2 separate regions of the Homo sapiens genome follow, and region 1 is linked to region 2. Evidence: fine-mapped expression QTL. A gene starts in region 2. The other region holds a variant in brackets. All regions are shown on one strand. Distances are from middle to middle.

Region 1 (8,744 bases), 41 kb after region 2:
AGGGGAGAGGGGAGAGGGGAGAGGCTTTTCTTTTTTCCTTTGAGACAGGGTCTCACTCTGTCACCTAGGCTGGAATGCAGTGGTGTGATCATAGCTCACTGCAGCCTTGAACTCCTGAGCTCAAGTGATCCACCTCAGCCTCCCAAATAGTTGTGACTACAGGTGCATATCAGACATAGCAAGATCCCTACAACGTTTTGTTGTAGAGATGGGGTCTCTACAACAAGACCAGCTATGTTTCCCAGGCTGGTCTTGAACTTCTGGGCTCAAGCAGTCCTACCACCTCAGCCTCCCAAATTGTTGGGATTACAGGCATGAGCCACCACACCTGGCCTCTAATAAATTTTCTATGTCTCAATAATGATGTTTTTGACTCATTGTTTTCATTTTAATAAGAAAACATAATTGCATTGACAAGTATTAAATGACAAGGATGCTTACCACCACTATAATTATTTTTTATGACCCTTTCCATTCCGAACACTCTGTCCTTTCTCTGAGCTCAGATACTTTTGCCACTCCCTTCCTGTGGCAACCCCCAGCACAGCTGATGGGCCTTGCCTCCATTGGGTCTTTGGAACAGCTGTTGGCCAGAGAACTGGCAGTCTTTGCCAACCTGTTGAGCCTGCCATAGAAGTCTTCTCTATAATTTTTCAGTGACTAATTTTTCCCCAACATCATGTATAGGATATAAGGAAAGTCAGTGTGGACCGTGAGAGTGTGTGTGTTCAAGTTTTTGTTGCCATCCTGTTTGATTCTCTTAAGAATCAACTTCTGAAAGTTTAGAATTGAATTTTACATTTTCTAATACATAGTTTTATTTCTTATTTAAGGCTGCTTCTGATGCTTGGAAGATATCCTCTCAGCCACAAAGATGGTAATAAATCTTTGCCTCCCACAGTTCAGACCAAGAATTCACTGCAACAAGGTAAACAAAACAAATATATACACATAAATATATGCTATGTTTGTCATGTGTTTCATCATTTCCTGCCTTGTGTGTGTGGATTTGATTCAGGCTTACTGCACTTTTGCTCTTGTTACTTTAGATTCCATCAGATGGTATTTAGGTAAGCATGGGGCAGGCTCACCTCTAGAATCACACAGCGCCATGGTGAGGTGAGCTGTGACTCATTTTGTGCAGGGTCCTCTTCACTGTGCTCTTTGTTCTTTGATGATCAATCTCCAGTCTCGTCAAAGTCATAGCAAAGGTAGAAATACTTTCTCTCCCCTGCACTTCTCTCCCCAGATACTGTTTTGAAGGGAGTTTTGGTTGGATTGGGCAGGATTTTGTTGCTTGCTTTTTTTTTTGGCAGGGAAAAGGGATATGGGGTCTTGCTATGTTGCCCAGGCCTATCTAACTCCTGGGCTAATGGGATCCTCCTGCCTCAGCCTCCTGAGTAGCTGGGACTACAGGTGTGTACCAACATGCCCAGCTCAGTTGCTCATATTTTTAAGGTTGGGCAATACTTGGGGGCCCCGATCTGGGACAATTGCCCTTGGCCTTTGATCTGATCTTGGGTGCCCTGATCTGGGACAATTCAGTTTAATAGAGGAAATTTTAAAACGAGGAACCTCAGGCTTAAGAGTTTTCTTACAAGTGACAAGTTGTCTTCATTTGGATCATTGTATCTTGTGTTTTTTATTAAATCTAGATATCAGCTGATGGTTACGAAGTAGAAAATCTCATCTCTGAAGATCTCACAAAGAGAAGTCATGGTTTCAGGACAGAGTATTTCATTAAGCCACCAGTCTATGTGACAGTTTCATTTCCCTTTAATGTGGAAATCTGTAGGATCAACATAGACCTCACAGCTGGGGGAGGTCAGAACGTCACTGGCCTGGAAATGTACACATCTGCCTCATCTAGCAGAGTGTCTTGGAATACGCCCCAGTGCCGGACCCTGGGCCCAGCTGAGCCATCTGTCCCAGACAAGGAGGCGTTCACCTTGGTAGGCAAAGTCTTACTGAAAAACCAGAGCCAAGTGGTGTTTAGCCACAGGGGCTTCAAGGCCAGGCCCCCTTTTGGCGCGATGGAAGCCACACTCCCCTCCCCTGCTGTTGTGGCCCAGGAGCTCTGGAATAAAGGGGCTCTTTCCCTTAGCCACGTGGCCCACTTAAGGATCTGTATCACCCATGTGACAGGCGGCGGTATCCCTTGTATCAAGCGGTTGGAAGTGTGGGGTCAGCCGGCCAAGACCTGCTCCCAGGAAGTGATAGACAGCATCCTGCTGGTCACCTCAGAGAACCTGCCTCAGGATGTGGCTCTGCAGGCTCCAGCCTTGCCCATGGAAAGTGACTGTGACCCTGGGGACCAGCCTGAGAGCCAGCAGGCTCCCTCCAGCCTGCAGAAGCTGGCCGAGATCATTCAGGATGTGCCTGAGGAGTTCCTGGATCCCATCACCCTGGAGATCATGCCTTGTCCCATGCTGCTGCCCTCAGGCAAGGTCATCGACCAGAGCACACTGGAGAAGTGTAACCGCAGTGAAGCCACATGGGGCCGAGTGCCCAGTGACCCTTTCACGGGGGTAGCTTTTACTCCGCACTCTCAGCCCCTGCCTCACCCCTCCCTCAAGGCCCGGATTGACCATTTCCTGCTCCAGCACTCCATCCCTGGCTGCCACCTGCTTGGGAGAGCACAGACGGCATTGGCAGTGATCCCTTCTTCCATTGTTCTGCCCTCTCAGAAAAGGAAGATAGAGCAGGCTGAACATGTCCCAGACAGTAACTTTGGTGTAAATGCTTCCTGTTTTTCTGCCACAAGCCCTTTGGTCTTACCCACTACCTCAGAGCACACTGCTAAGAAAATGAAAGCCACCAATGAGCCCAGCCTGACACATATGGACTGCTCGACAGGTAATTCAGCATCCTGTGTCCGCAGCCAGGCTCATCCATCTCCTTCCCAGGAGCTCTCAGCTCTGCTGCCCTTTGCTTTGTGCTTGGCCAGCTTACATTCCCGAGGCTGTGCCTGTGCTGCCTCCTTCCCGTTTCCCATCCTGGGGCCCCTCAGCTTTGTCTTCAGACCAGGGACAACCTGGAGCCTTGGAGGGGTTCCATGTGTTCTCGTCTATTCTCATCTGTTCCGAGGCTTCAGTCTGCGTGTTTCGCTCCTCTGTTGGTGATGGTCCCATGGGCACTGTTGCCTTCCTTGGGGTCCCTTTATGTGCCCTGGCCTGGTCAACACTTTTTCCTGGGCTTGAAGCCTCTGGTCAGAGCTGCTGGGAGGAAAGATACCAGTCCCTCAAAGCAGAGAATCTCTTCTGGTGCCTTCTTTGTGTTACTCATGTGACAGTGGGCTCCTCTGGGTGTTATTTCTAACCGTCACAGAGGTACAAGGATATATTGCATGGAGGTTCTCTGTGCGCCCCCCTCACCATGTGGCATGAGGACACAGAAAAGGAAAAAGGACTAGGTCTGTGGGCCTTCCTTTCAGGAGAGGGTTACTGAAGAGAAAAGCCACACTGAAGAGGGTGCACTCAGTAAATGTGTGGACAAATTGCAATATTCTCTTTGTGTTTTTTTCTGTTTTTCTTCTTTATTGCATTTGGCAGGATCCACCAGGTAAAATTGCAACAATCTTTTTTTTTTTTTTTTGAGATGGAGTCTCGCTGTGTCGCCCAGGCTGGAGTGCGGTGGCATGATCTCGGCTCACTGCAAGCTCTGCCTTCCGGGTTCACACCATTCTCCTGCCTCAGCCTCCCGAGTAGCTGGGATTAGGCGCCCGCCACCACGCCTGGCTAAGTTTTTGTATTTTTAGTAAAGACGGGGTTTCACCTTGTTAGCTAGGATGGTCTCAATCTCCTGACCTTGTGATCCACCCACCTTGGCCTCCCAAAGTGCCGGGATTACAGATGTAAGCCACTGCACTCGACTTCTGTTTTTTTTTTTTTTTTTGAGATGGAGTCTCGCTCTGTCACCAGGCTGGAGTGCAGTGGCGTGATATTGGCTCACTGCAACCTCCGCCTCCCAGGTTCAAGTGATTCTCCTGCCTCAGCCTCTGGAGTAGCTGGGATTACAGAC[G/A]CGCGCCACCACGCCCAGCTAATTTTTGTATTTTTAGTAGAGAAGGGGTTTCACCATGGTGCCCGGGATGGTCTCAACCTGTTAACCTCGTGATCCACCTGCCTCGGCTTCCTAAAGTGCTGGGATCTGCAAGCCACTGTGCCTGGCCTGCAACATTCTTGAGTATGAGATTTAAGGATCCTGGCTTCCTGCCTCTTCCCTGGGGCATTGCCAGTGATTTCTAGGGCCGGTGATGCTGCTCTCTCCTGAGGTGAGCAGCCCTGGTTCACTGGGTGACCTCTGCAGCTGAATGTGTTCAGTGTGAATACCTCAGGGCAAGCTGGATGTTGGATCTTAGGCTGAGATAGATGTTTTTTTGTTGTTGTTGAGATGGAGCCTCACTCTGTTACCCAGGCTGGAGTGCAATGGCGCAATCTCGTCTCACTGCAGCCTCCGCCTCGCAGCTTCAAGCAATTCTCCTGCCTCAGCCTCCCAAGTAGCTGGGATTACAGGCATGTACCACCACACCGGCTAATTTTTTGTATTTTTAGTAAAGACAGGTTTTCACCATGTTGGCCAGGTTGGTCTCGAACTCCTGACCTCAGGTGATTCGCCCACCTCAGCCTCCCAGAGTGCTAGGATTACAGGTATAAGCCACCGCGCCTGGCCTGAGATAGATGTTTTTATCATGTTAAAGAAGTATTGGTTATCTATTGCTAGGTAACAAATTACCCCAAAACTTACTGGCTTACAGCAACAAACATTCATTGTCTCATAACTTCTGTGGATCACAAATCCCAGCGTAACTTGGCTGGATTCTCTGCTTCAGGGTCTTCCAAGTCTGCCATCAAACTGGTGGCTGAGGCTGTGGTCATCTCAAGGATCAACTGGGGAAGCATTTACTTCTAGTCTCACCCACATCATTGTTGCAAGATTCAGCTCGTTGATGCATTGTTGGACTGAGGCCTCACTTGCTGGTTGGCTGTTGGCCCAAGGCTGCCCTCGGTTCCTTGCCTTGTGGGCCTCTCCATAGGGCAGTGTACTGTGTGGGAGCTGTGCGTTCCAGAGAGAGTGCACAGACGAGGGAAATCCATCTTTTAGAATGTAATCTTGAAAGTCACACTCCTCACTTCTATTGTATTCTTATTTTTCCCAAGGTATTTGTTAATTGCTTATTTATAATATTAAGAGAAATGATTTCTTAGCCTCCATCTTCATATTTCTTAGTTCGAGAACACAGATCAGTGACAAACTTCTGTGTAATTCAACCTAAATAATTCCTTCCTTCCTTCCTTTTTTTTTGAGATGGAGTCTCACTGTGTCACTCAGGGTAGAGTGCAGTGGTGTGATCTCGGCTCACTTCAATCTCTGCCTCCCGGGTTCAAGCAATTCTCATGCCTCAGCCTCTGGAATAGCTGGGACTATAGGTGCGTGCCAACACGCCTGGCTGATTTTTTTTCTTTTTTTTTGAGACGGAGTCTCGCTCTGTCGCCCAGGCTGGAGTGCAGTGGCGCGATCTTGGCTCACTGCCAGCTCCGCCTCCCTGGTTCACGCCATTCTCCTGCCTCAGCCTCCTGAGTAGCTGGGACTACAGGCGCCCGCCAGCACACCTGGCTAATTTTTTTAATACTTTTAGTAGAGACGGGGTTTCACTGTGTTAGCCAGGATGGTCTTGATCTCCTGACCTCATGATCCACCCACCTCGGCCTCCCAAAGTGCTGGGATTACAGGTGTGAGCCACTACACCTGGCTGATTTTTGTATTTTTATGAGGCAGAGTCTCACTCTGTCACCCAGGCTGGAGTGCAATAGCACAATCTTGGCTCACTGCAACCTCTGCCTCCTGGTCTAAGCAATTCTCCTGCCTCAGCCTCCAGAGTAGTTGGGATTACAGGTGCCCACAACCGTGCCCAGCTAATTTTTGTATTTTTAGTATAGACTGGGTTTTGTCATGTTGGCCAAGCTGATCTTGAACTCCTGACCTCAGGTTATCTACCTGCCTCAGCCTCCCAAAGTGCTGGGATTACAGGCATGAGCGATAGTGCCCGGCCTGTTAATGGTTTCTTTTTGTTTTGTTTTTTTGGAAACAGTCTCCCTCTGTCGCCCAGGCTGGAGTGCAGCAGTGACGCAATCTCTGCTCACTGCGACCTCTGCTGCTGGGATTTAAGTGATTCTCCTGCCTCGGTAGCCAAGACTACAGGCGCACAGCACCATACTGGCTAATTTTTTTTATTTTTATTTTTATTTTTTGAGACAGAGTCTCATTCTGTCGCCCTGGCTGGAGTGCAGTGTCGCAATCTCTGCTCACTGCAACCTCCGCCTCCCGGATTCAAGTGATTTTCCTGCCTCAGCCTCCTGATTAGCTGAGATTACAGGCGCTCGCCACCATGCCTGGCTAATTTTTGTATTTGTAGTAGAGATGGGGTTTCGCCATGTTGGCCAGGCTGGTCTTGAACTCCTGACCTCAGGTGATCTGCCTGCCTCAGCCTCCCAAAGTGCTGGGATTACAAGTGTGAGCCACCACGCCCAGCCCTGTTATTTATTTATTTATCTATATAGTGACGGAGTCTCGCTCTGTCGCCCGGGCTGGAGTGCACTTGTGCGATCTTGGCTCACTGCAACCTCTGCCTCCTGGATTCTAGCAATTCTCCTGCTTCTGCCTCCTGAGTAGCTGGGACTACAGGCACATGCCGCCACACCCGGCTAATTTTTCGTATTTTATTAGAGACGGTGTTTCACCATGTTGCCCAGGCTGGTCACAAACTCCTGAGCTCAGGCAATCCACCCGCCTTGGCCTCCCAAAACTCTGGGATTACAGGCATGAGCTACAGCGCCTGGCCCCTGTTAATAGATTTTAATGGTTCTGTTTGCTAGTGTTAGGATTTTTGTATTCATTAGTGGGGTTGGACTGTAGTGTGTGTGTGTGTGTGTGTGTGTGTGTGTGTGTGTGTGTGCCATCTTTGGTCAGGTGTCATTGATGATTTTTTTGTTCCATAGAAAGAATTTAGAATTTTTTCTTTTCTGTGCTGTGGAACAATTGAATAGTATTGGAATACCCACTCTGCCTGTCTAGTAGAAGTCCTTGTGATTGTCAGTGCTTGGTGCTTGTGGAGGGTAGCTCTTTGACACGTTTCCTTTTTTTTTTTGAGATGGAGTCTCGCTCTGTCACCCAGGCTGGAGTGCAGTAGTGTGATTATGGCTCACTGCAACCTCTGCCTCCTGAGTTCAAGCGAATCTCCTGCCTCAGCTTCCCGAGTAGCTGGGATTACAGGCACGCACTACTACGCCTGGCTAATTTTTGTATTTTCAGTAGAGACAGGATTTCGCCATGTTGACCAGGCTGGTCTTGAACTCCTGACTTCAGGCGATCTGCCTGTCTCAGCCTCCCAAAGTGCTGGGATTACAGGTGTGAGCCACTGTGCCTGGCCTGGCAACCTTTTCTTTTTCCTTATGGAAATTATTCTGTTTAGGTTGATCATTCTTTTAGTTTCCTATGTTCTTCTAAAAGACTATGCAAATACTATGCTTAACGTTTATTTCTGTGTCTTTGGTTTTAAGAGTAAATTCTAGTTAACATGACCTTCAGAAACTCCTGGAAACATCTGAGGCGCAGTGGGGTGGAACAAGGAAAAAGGTCCTTAGACTTCAGCGTCAGTTTGTGGAGGTCTCAGTCCTGTTGGCCTTGACAGACTTGGTGACTCAGGACCACGCTGACTAGGGCTCCTTCAAGGCCCTGAGCTGATGTCCTGTGTCCTGCAAACAGTGGACAAAAGTTTCCATTCTCCTCTTTGAGACAGCATTGCAAATTTTTCTGCCACACAGGTCCCTGGGGTCTTTCTTGGGCAGCTGTCCCCCTACCCCTTTGGCCTTCACCCTCATTCCATGGCTTGGCTTTCTGTTGATCCTACACTAAAGGTCCCCTAAATTGTGGCGTGGTCAACGTGGGGTCTTAGTTCTATTCGGTAAAAACTGCTTTGTTTTACTTAACAGGAGAGAGAGGACATGAACACCTAGAAAATGCAGATGAACCCCTCTGGGGGGTGGTGGGGTCCCCAGAAGGGTGGAGTTAGGGAAAGAGAAGACTAAGGCCGCTGGGGAGGGAATGGGGGGCAGGGAGCAGCAGTCCAAAGCTGGCGTTTGCTTGCCCCAGTTATTTTCTTGGCCAGCAAGGAGGCCTTTAGAAAGGAGGCCAGGCGCTGTGGCTCACGCCTGTAATCCCGGCACTTTGGGAGGCTGAGGCAGGTGGATCACGAGGTCAGGAGATCTCCTAGCCAACATGGTGAAACCCCGTCTCTACTAAAATACAAAAAATTAGCCAGGCGTGGTGGCGCACACCTGTAGTCCCAGCTACTTGGGAGGCTGAGACAGGAGAATCGCTTGAATCCAGGAGGCGAAGGTTGCAGTGAGCTGAGATGGCACCCCTGCACTCCTTCTCAGCCTGGGCGACAGACCAAGGCTCCATCTCAAAAAAAAAAAAAAAAAAAAAAAGGAGCGTGCAGTTCTGCAGTTGAGCCACGAGGTGGCTCATGTCTGCCCAGCAGTTTCTCCAGGAGGAGAAAAGCCTGAAGCCGGTGGGATGGGCAGGAACTGCCGGTGTTCCTAGGGCTTTACCTCCCGGTGTTCTGTCATGGTCCGCCAGTAGACATTAGGATGGAGTTTCATTACATTGATGTGTGAGATTGGAGGTGCCGTTTTTACAGCCCTCGAAGGACTTGAGGCTGTTCTCTTTTGCGGAGCCTGTCTCTG
Region 2 (8,807 bases):
TGGGATGGGGGGGGGGATGAAAGGAGCAGGGGGGACAAAAATCAATTGGGAGTGTCTGTGAGGACCCGAGGCCATCCGCTGGGTGAGACATGTCCATCTTGAGTCCAGGCAGGGAATCGGGTGCGTCGCTGCTGATGAGGGGCTGAGCCTGCAGCCCCGGGAAGCTTGGTGCCCCTGGCTCCAGATCTGGTAGCTGGGTTGGGGTGAGCAGAGCTCTGCCTTTACCTGGCTTCTCCTCTCACCTGTTCCTGCCCAGGTGTGCCAGAAGGCTGGCGAGATCTCCCTCCTGAAGCAGCAGCTGAAGGACTCGCAGGCGGATGTGTCGCAGAAGTTGAGTGAGATCGTGGGACTGCGCTCGCAGCTGCGGGAGGGCCGGGCTTCGCTGCGGGAGAAGGAGGAGCAGCTGCTCAGCCTGCGGGACTCCTTCAGCAGCAAGCAGGCCAGCCTGGAGCTGGGCGAAGGCGAGCTGCCTGCCGCCTGCCTCAAGCCGGCGCTGACCCCCGTGGACCCGGCCGAGCCACAGGATGCTCTGGCCACCTGCGAGAGCGACGAGGCTAAGATGCGCCGTCAGGCCGGGGTGGCCGCTGCCGCCTCCTTGGTTTCCGTGGACGGGGAGGCGGAGGCTGGCGGGGAGAGCGGGACGCGGGCCCTGCGGCGGGAGGTGGGGCGGCTGCAGGCCGAGCTGGCGGCTGAGCGGCGGGCCCGGGAGCGCCAGGGTGCCAGCTTCGCCGAGGAGCGCCGCGTGTGGCTGGAGGAGAAGGAGAAGGTGATCGAGTACCAGAAGCAGCTGCAGCTGAGCTACGTGGAGATGTACCAGCGCAACCAGCAGCTGGAGCGCAGGCTGCGGGAGCGCGGGGCCGCAGGGGGTGCAAGCACGCCCACTCCCCAGCATGGCGAGGAGAAGAAGGCCTGGACCCCCTCCCGCCTCGAGCGCATTGAGTCCACAGAAATCTGATCGACCTGGGCACTCGGCATTTTGACACATGTCCTGTCAAAAGGCCAGAGTCCCCAGTGTCCCCTCCCCTCCATCTCTCTTCCCCATAGACCCCATAACCCCAGACCAAAGAGGTTCTCTAAGCAGCTGTGACCAGGTTCCTCCCTCCCCACCTGCCCTCCTAGCTCCAGCACTGCCCCCGTGGCAGCCCACTTGGACCCCCCTAAAAGGAGGGAATAGGAGGAGGGCAGGGTGAGTGGGGGCAATCCTAGGTGGTGGGGGAGTCATGCTCCCTTTCTCGGCACCCCCTTGTTGGAGATGGAGGCAGCAGACGTGCAGTGCCATAAGGTGCCCCAGTCCTTCTGGAGGCCTGGGCTGCTACTGTTGGCCACCCTGTGTCTAGTGATGCTCTCTGTGCTCACCTCCTAGGCCATGGAGCCTGAGGGGGCCTGCACCAGGTTTGCTGAAACTGACAGAGCCTGGGCTCCAGACCTCTCTCCCTCCTACAGTGCTCTCCCTCCCTGGGCAGATTGGCAGGACAAGTGGGAGCAGATGGCCTGCCTTTGGCTGAGAGGGCTACCTGCCCAGCCCCTCCCCCAACAAGATCTCTTGGACTCAGGCCTCAGAGCCTGGCCTGGTTGTGAGTGTGTGTCCCTGTGTGTGTGTTGCGGGAGGGGAGGACTGGGGCTGGAAGTCCAGCACCCAGGGAAGATCTGTCCTCCTGTTCTTGGGAAGCGTTGCCTGACGGCTTCTCGGCTCTACCCTCACCCTTCTGGCCAGGATCCCGCAGGGCAACAGCCCCATCTGCTTGGCTGACCCCACACCCAGGACCACTGTCCGGCTCTAACACAGCTATTAAGTGCTACCTGCCTCTCAGGCACTCTCCTCGCCCAGTTTCTGAGGTCAGACGAGTGTCTGCGATGTCTTCCCGCACTCTATTCCCCCAGCCTCTTTCTGCTTTCATGCTCAGCACATCATCTTCCTAGGCAGTCTCTTCCCCAAAGTCTCACCTTTTCTTCCAATAGAAAATTCCGCTTGACCTTTGGTGCACTGCCCACTTCCCAGCTCCACTGGCCCAAGTCTGAGCCGGAGGCCCTTGTTTTGGGGGCGGGGGGAGAGTTGGATGTGATTGCCCTTGAAGAACAAGGCTGACCTGAGAGGTTCCTGGCGCCCTGAGGTGGCTCAGCACCTGCCCAGGGTAGGCCTGGCATGAGGGGTTAGGTCAGCCAATGTCAGCTGCTTCTCTTGGGGCCCTCTCAGAGTCTATCTCCCCAAGACAGGAAGGGAAAAGCAAATTTCTAATTCACCAGCAATAAAAATTGGAGGAGGCTTGGCCCTCAGCCCTTATATCTCTCTCTTTTTCACTCTCTTCCTCCCACCCCCAAGACTGAGTTTTGGGGGGCAAGGTGGAGAGAGCTGGCAACTACTGTGAGCAAGTCCCCTAGCCCCTGACCAGCCTCCTCCCATGACTGGTGACTGTTTAATGAGCTGTGCATCCCCCACAAAAACATGAGTGCCCCTCTGTGTGGCCTCTAACCCTCTGCACAGCCCTTCTGGGTGGTCCTCACCAGGTCTCTGAGCTGGGTGGGAGGCCATCCTGGCGACCACTGCCCATTCCATTCACCCCTCACTGTACCTGCCCTAGAACCTGGGCCTAGGCCACAGGGGCAGGGAGAAGAGAAGGCATTAGTAAGAAAAAAATAGAAAAAAATATGAACAGACTCAGCTTTGGGACGTCCAACCACAAAAGAAATTATATATAAATATATATAAATATATATCTCTACCATATGTGATGGAAAGACTTTTTGTTTTCCTTTCCCAAAGAAATAAAACGGAAAAAGCCTCTTGAGTGGTATTCTTTGGCCTGCTTGTGTCTTTGCAGGTGCGGGAGGTGAGGCCCGGGTGGGGGATGGGGGCAAAGCTGGAGTAAACAGATTTCCCAGAGGAGGCATGAGACTGGAGGTGCTCACTGGGCCGTGCTAGGAGGTTGGCCCAAAGCCCAAGTTCTGCCACGTTGCCCGGGAAGAGTCGTGGTGCCATGTATATGCCCAGTGGGGCTTTCTCTTCAGCTCAGACTGTTGCCAAAGGGGTTAAAAGCTGGCTCCAGCTCAGAATCTGGACACTAAGCTGCTAGCCAGAAAACAGGTGACGCAGGACAGCTAGATGCAGCCTGCAGTCGCCTAAGCCACCTTACAGCAACTGGTAGATGTTTGCGGGCTGAATGGATAGAAGTGAAGACTGGGAACAGGTTTGCAATTAATGGCGAAGCCCCAAAGGCAAAAGGGACCCAAGCGTGCTGCACAGCAGAGAGCTTCCCTTTACAACAGTTCCTCTGTCATCCTCTCAAAGCACACAATCAAGAATGCACTCTGCTGTAAGTAATCAAAGGACCTCAAAGAGTGGTTTATTTTTCCCCAACCTGACAAGAAATCCGGAGGTGGTGTCATGGTTGTTGGATCCTCGGGGACCTAGATTTTCATCCTCCCACTGTTCCATCCTTGGCATGTTGTTCCCTCCTTACCACAAAGTGGCTGCCACAGCTCCATGAAGACATTGAGGCGGCCCTACTTTATCATGAAAAGTAAAAGCTTTCCCAGAGCCCTCCCAGGACCCTTCCCTTTAAGTCCTGTTGGCCAGAACTGAGCCACATGCTCCTCCCACTTCAAGGGAGAATGGGAATTTGAGTATTACAAAGAGAAACAGGATTGTCATGGCTGCCTAGGAACAAACATGGTTCATTCCTTGGGGGCAGGCTCTCTGCTTTCTCTGGGTTCTACTGGCAAGGACAGAGTCATAACAATGAATAGTGTTTGCCCTGGTCTGGCCTGAGGGAGAGAACCCTCCCTAAGCAGTGGTGTCTGTGGTCTGGGGCTCCAGATATTCAAACAGCGCTGTCTCCAGAGCTCAGGAGTTGGGATGTCAGGCTTGCCCCTCCTGGCAGGGACGTGTTCTTCCTACATTGATTTTGTCTTCCCTACAAGATAGGCCCTGGAGGGAGCATGATTTCTCAGCTCTCCTTCACACCCCTTAGAGCCAAGGCATTGACAAGATATGAAGACCCTGATCAGCAGATCTCAAGTGCCCTCAGGAATGGCAGCCTGGGGCCAGGACTTTCTGATAGGTAGAGGTTTAGTAGAGTCTCTTTCTTGTCTAGGTACCTATACTGACAGCTGTGTCAATATATGTACCCAGTAGGACCCAGCCCTCCTTCTTAGGGTGGTGGAGAATCACCCTGGCTCATGCTCCATAGCTCTGGCCTCGCTAAGCCCCAGCTCCACATCCATTTCTCTCAGCAGGCTCATCTATCCATCATGTCACTAGCTCTTTTCCTGAGAGCACTTTACAGATACATCTCTATTATAAATGCATTAAAAAAAAAAAAAGATGGAGTCTCACTGTTGCCCCGGCTGGAGTGCAGTGGTGCAATCTCGGCTCACTGCAACCTCTACCTCCTGCGTTCAAGTGATTCTCCTGCCTTAGCCTCCCAAGTAGCTGGGGTTACAGGTGCACGCCACCATGCCCCGCTAATTTTTTTTTGTATTTTTAGTAGAGACGAGGTTTCACCATGTTGGCCAGGCCGGTCTCCAACACCGGGGATTACAGGTGTGAGCCACCACACCCGACCAATGCATTGTTAAAATTAGACAGGTGTGGTGGTGCATGCCTGTGGTCTTAGCTACTCAGGAGGCTGAGGCAGGAGGATCACTTGAACCCAGGAGGTTGAGGCTGCAGTGAGCCATGATTGCACCATTGCACCCCAGCCTGGGCAATGGGGCAAGACTTTGTCTCAAAAAAAAAAAAAATGTATTGTTTTTCTCACTGTACAGGCTTAGAGAATTTATGTGGGCCGGGTGCGATGGCTCATACCTGTAATCCCAGTACTTTCGGAGGCTGAGGCGGCAGTATTGCATGAGCCCAGGAGTTCGAGACTAGCCTGGGCAACATAGGAAGACACTGCCATCCCCGTCTCTATGAAAATAATAATAATAATATAACAAGAATGAATTTATGTGACTTCTCCAAGGCCATAAAACCCTGAGTGGTGGTCCTCAGATTTGAACATGTGTCTAAGCTACTTACTTTTTTTTTTTTTTTTTTTTTTTTAGATGGAGTCTCGCTCTGTGTCCCAGAGCTGGAGTACAGGGGTGCCCAGACTGGAGTACAGTGGCGAGATATCGGCTCACTGCAACCTCCGCCTCCCGGGTTCAAGCGACTCTCCTGCTTCCGCTTCCTGAATAGCTGGATTATAGGCGTGCGCCACCACGCCCGGCTAATTTTTGTATTTTTAGTAGAGACGGGGGTTTCACCACGTTAGCCAGGCTGGTCTCGAACTCCTGAACTCAGGTGATCCGCCCGCCTTGGCCTCCCAAAGTACTGGGATTACAGGCGTGAGCCACCGCGCCGGGACTAAGCTGCTTAATGACTTCCAGAGCGATCCATCCAGGAAGGTGTTTTCCCTCTGCAGGTCCTAGACTCCCCCTGCCTCCTCAACAACGTCCTCCAGTGGAAAATGTCCTTGGGAAACGCTGACAGAGTCTTTTGAGCCTCGGCCGCATCCGTCACTCGCGCAGCAGGCGGAAGTAGCGGGCAGTTGGCCGGAAGTGGGGCTGTGAGGCTCGGAGTCGCCGGAGGAGCCAGTATCTGTGTCGCCGCCGCCCGCGGCGTCCCCGGTTTGGTGTTGCGGCGCCCACCTTCGGGAGGATCAGGTGAGTGGCGGCGGCCGGGGAGGAGGTCGCGGCGGCCTCTTTCCGCGTTCACGACCGTCCTGGGCCTTGGCCTGTGCCTCCTGTCCTCCCGGCCGGCCCAGAGCTGGAGCGCATCGAGGCCTTGTTCAGCTCTTGGCCTGGGTTGCCAGTGCCTCTCGCAGGCCTGGCTGTGGTGAGAACTTCAGTGACTCTCGCCGCTCCTGAGTTTGTGATCTTTGGCAGGGGGCTTATCTGACCCTTGATTTTTTTTCCTCTGTGAAATGGAGATCGTAACAGTACTTGTCTCACGGTGCTGTTAAGAGAATGTAGTCAGATATTCTGCCGCGCCTCTCATCACACTTTGATGTGCCTGCGAATCGCTTAGAGATTCTGATTCTGTAGGACTGGGGTGGGTTCTGAGATAACTGTGTTCCTAACTAGATTCCAGACGAGGCTGAAGCCTCTGGCACGCAGACCACACACTGAGTAGCAAGGCCCTACAGTATGTTGCTTAGCATTTGGGATGCGGAGTCTTCGGTAAACATCAGTATGATAGGATATATACCTTCCCCCCATTTTTAGCAGTTTCTCGTTGCACAAGCCTAAGGGTAGTATTGATGGCCTTCTCCCTTTTTCTTTCCGTGGGTAAGAATAGTTGCTCTTTCTCTTTCTGTGCAAACCGTGACACAGCTCTTCTGTCTTGACTCAGGGAACTTTGGGTCCCCTCATATCAGCTGTGTTCATCAGTCTTGGGTGATGCTTCACTGATCAGACCCTTGGACAGTGCTTCATCCTGTGGAGCTGATAGCCAGCTGCGTTAGCACCAACTGTGGCTGGCGTTTTGTGCTCCAGTCATTTGTTGCTGCTGGAATCTGAATTCACGTTTTCTACACTTTGTGAATAGTAAGAATGGCTGCCTTTCCAGAACTAGATTCTGTAGCTCACTGACCTGAATGGTCCTGGGCAAGTCCTTGGATAGTTTGCTACTACCTGGTAGACTAAAATAAAATCTGGGCCGGACACAGTGGCTCACGCCTGTAATCCCAGCACTTTGGGAGGTCAAGGCGGGCGGATCACGAGGTCAGGAGATCGAGACCATCTTGGCTAATATGGTGAAACCCCGTCTCTACTAAAAATACAAAAAAATAGCTGGGCGTGGTGGCGGGCGCCTGTAGTCCCAGCTACTCTGGAGGCTGAGGCAGGAGCGTGGCGTGAACCCCGGGAGGCGGAGTGTGCAGTGAGCCGAGATCGCGCCACTGCACTCCAGCCTGGGCGAGAGAGCGAGAGTCCGTCTCAAATAAATGAATAAATAAATAAATAAATAAGTAAATAAAATCTGAAGACTCTGTGCTGCATAACATAACTTAAAAAGTGAGGCCTTTGGCAGTTATGCAGGTCTAATGTTTATTAGTCAGTATGATTTTCTTCCCCATCCATTGGTTTATTTTTTTAGTCCCTAATAAGGCCTTGCCATTCATCATGTGAATAAGTCAACTTTGATATAAAATAATTCTAAGGTCAGGTGCGGTGGCTCATGCCTGTAATCCCAGCACTTTGGGAGGCCGAAGTGGAAGGATTACTTGAGCCCAGGAGTTCGAGACCAACCTGGGGGCAACATAGGGAAACTCTGTCTCTACGAAAAAAACAAAAAACAAAAAAAACACACAAAAAAACAAAATGTAGCCAGGCGTGGTGGTGGGCTTGTAGTCCAAGCTACTTAGGAGGCTGAGGTGGGAGGATCGTTTGAGATCCTTGAGCGATCCTCGCCCGGGAGGTTGCCGGGGTGAGAGGTGGGGGGCAGTGGTCGAGGATGCAGTGAGCGGAGATTGCACCACTGCCCTCCAGACTGAACAACAGAGCGAGACCCTGTCTGAAAAAAAAAACAAAAGAATTCTGAAACTCCTTCTTTATTTGTCTGAAGTATGTACTATACAGCCTCTATACAGCCTTGCAAATTGTAAAAGCAGATAAAACCAAGTGTTTATTGAGCTAACAGTTATAGGTACTTGGACCATTTATTTGGGAATTTTCTCTTATGACGACTGTGTGCATGCAGCTACTTCTCTTTACCTGCCTGGATTTTGTAATTCCTCTAGAAGCCCCATTTAGATGGGCTGAGAGGACATGAGTGCCTACTGCCTGTTGTTATATGGAGAGGTTTTCTAAAGACAGGGTTTTATGAAACCCTTTAAAAGCAGTAGCTCTAACAGAATCATCTACAGGGCTTAGTCATACTATATCTACCCACATCCTTCTTGCCATTCTGATAGAGGAATAGCAGAGTCTTAAAAGAGAAGCGGAAGGGCTGTGTAGCTGAAAAAGTTTCACAAATGTTTGTGATGTGCTGTTTTTCTCCTATCAGCATGGAGTCTAGAACAAAAAGGAAGGGATGGATTGCTAGACTGAATAATTTTAGTTTGGCTTAGACCTGCGAGTGACACTGAACTTGACCTAAACACCTTTGCACTAGTGCTTCACCTTCGCAGTACTGGTAGACTCCTCTCTGAGGCCCTGCTCCCGTGTGGAAACAGAAACACAGAAGAGTCTAGCCCAGTTAACATCCACATTAACAGCTAAGGTCCTTACTGCCAGTCTCTAAGCCCTCACTAGGGGCTTTGAAGTTTTGTAGATTCTCAGCAGAATACCTCAGCACCTAGAGAAAGTTCGGTTTTTTTGCCCTTTTTTTTTGGTAGAGACAGGGTCTCGCCATGTAGCCCAGACTGGTCTTGAACTCCTGGCCTCACGTGATCTGCCTGCTCGGCCTTCCAAAGTGCTGGGATTATGGTCATGAGCCACCTGTCTAGCCAGTTTTTTTGCCTTTTTAATTCTTAAGGTTGCTCAACAAATTATTTGCTGAGACAAGAATAGGGTTGGAGTGTTCATTTATTTGTGGCAATTTTATTGGGACATAGAAAGGAAAAGTGTTAGAATTGAGGGATCAGATCTGGTAAGTGGTAAATTGTATGTGTTTAAGGTGTCTTATACTCAGTCTACAGTTAGCATCGCTCCTTCCTCTGCCTGGCCCCCCTCCTCTAACTTCTAGACTCTAGTTTAAAATGAAGCTATTCGGCTCTGCTCAGACCGGTATGTGGAAGGGAGAAAGGTAAGATTCTTCAGTCCTGTGAAATCACATCATTCAGGGAGGTTTGGGCATTGCCTTTTGGAACTGACAGGGTCCAGGAGTG

Evidence for each region. PIP is the estimated chance that this variant, and not a neighbour inherited with it, causes the effect.
Region 1: its variant is fine-mapped to the expression of UBOX5 in whole blood (INTERVAL, PIP 0.98).

Annotation. Positions count from the first base shown.
Region 1 is chr20:3,115,496-3,124,239 of GRCh38, reverse strand. UBOX5 (U-box domain containing 5) reads left to right here. Exons shown (of 5, transcript NM_014948.4): 2 at 834-928; 3 at 1,656-2,856. The coding sequence starts at 875. All of the region lies in intron 5 of UBOX5-AS1 (UBOX5 antisense RNA 1), which reads right to left. Among named protein-coding and RNA genes, the nearest start is that of UBOX5-AS1, 13 kb to the right of the region's middle. The variant G/A (reference allele first, on the strand shown) is at 4,021.
Region 2 is chr20:3,156,602-3,165,408 of GRCh38, reverse strand. It overlaps UBOX5 (U-box domain containing 5), which reads left to right and starts at 5,544. Exons shown (of 5, transcript NM_014948.4): 1 at 5,544-5,643. It overlaps FASTKD5 (FAST kinase domains 5), which reads left to right and starts at 5,544. Exons shown (of 2, transcript NM_021826.5): 1 at 5,544-5,643. LZTS3 (leucine zipper tumor suppressor family member 3) reads left to right here. Exons shown (of 5, transcript NM_001365618.1): 5 at 257-2,792. The coding sequence ends at 955.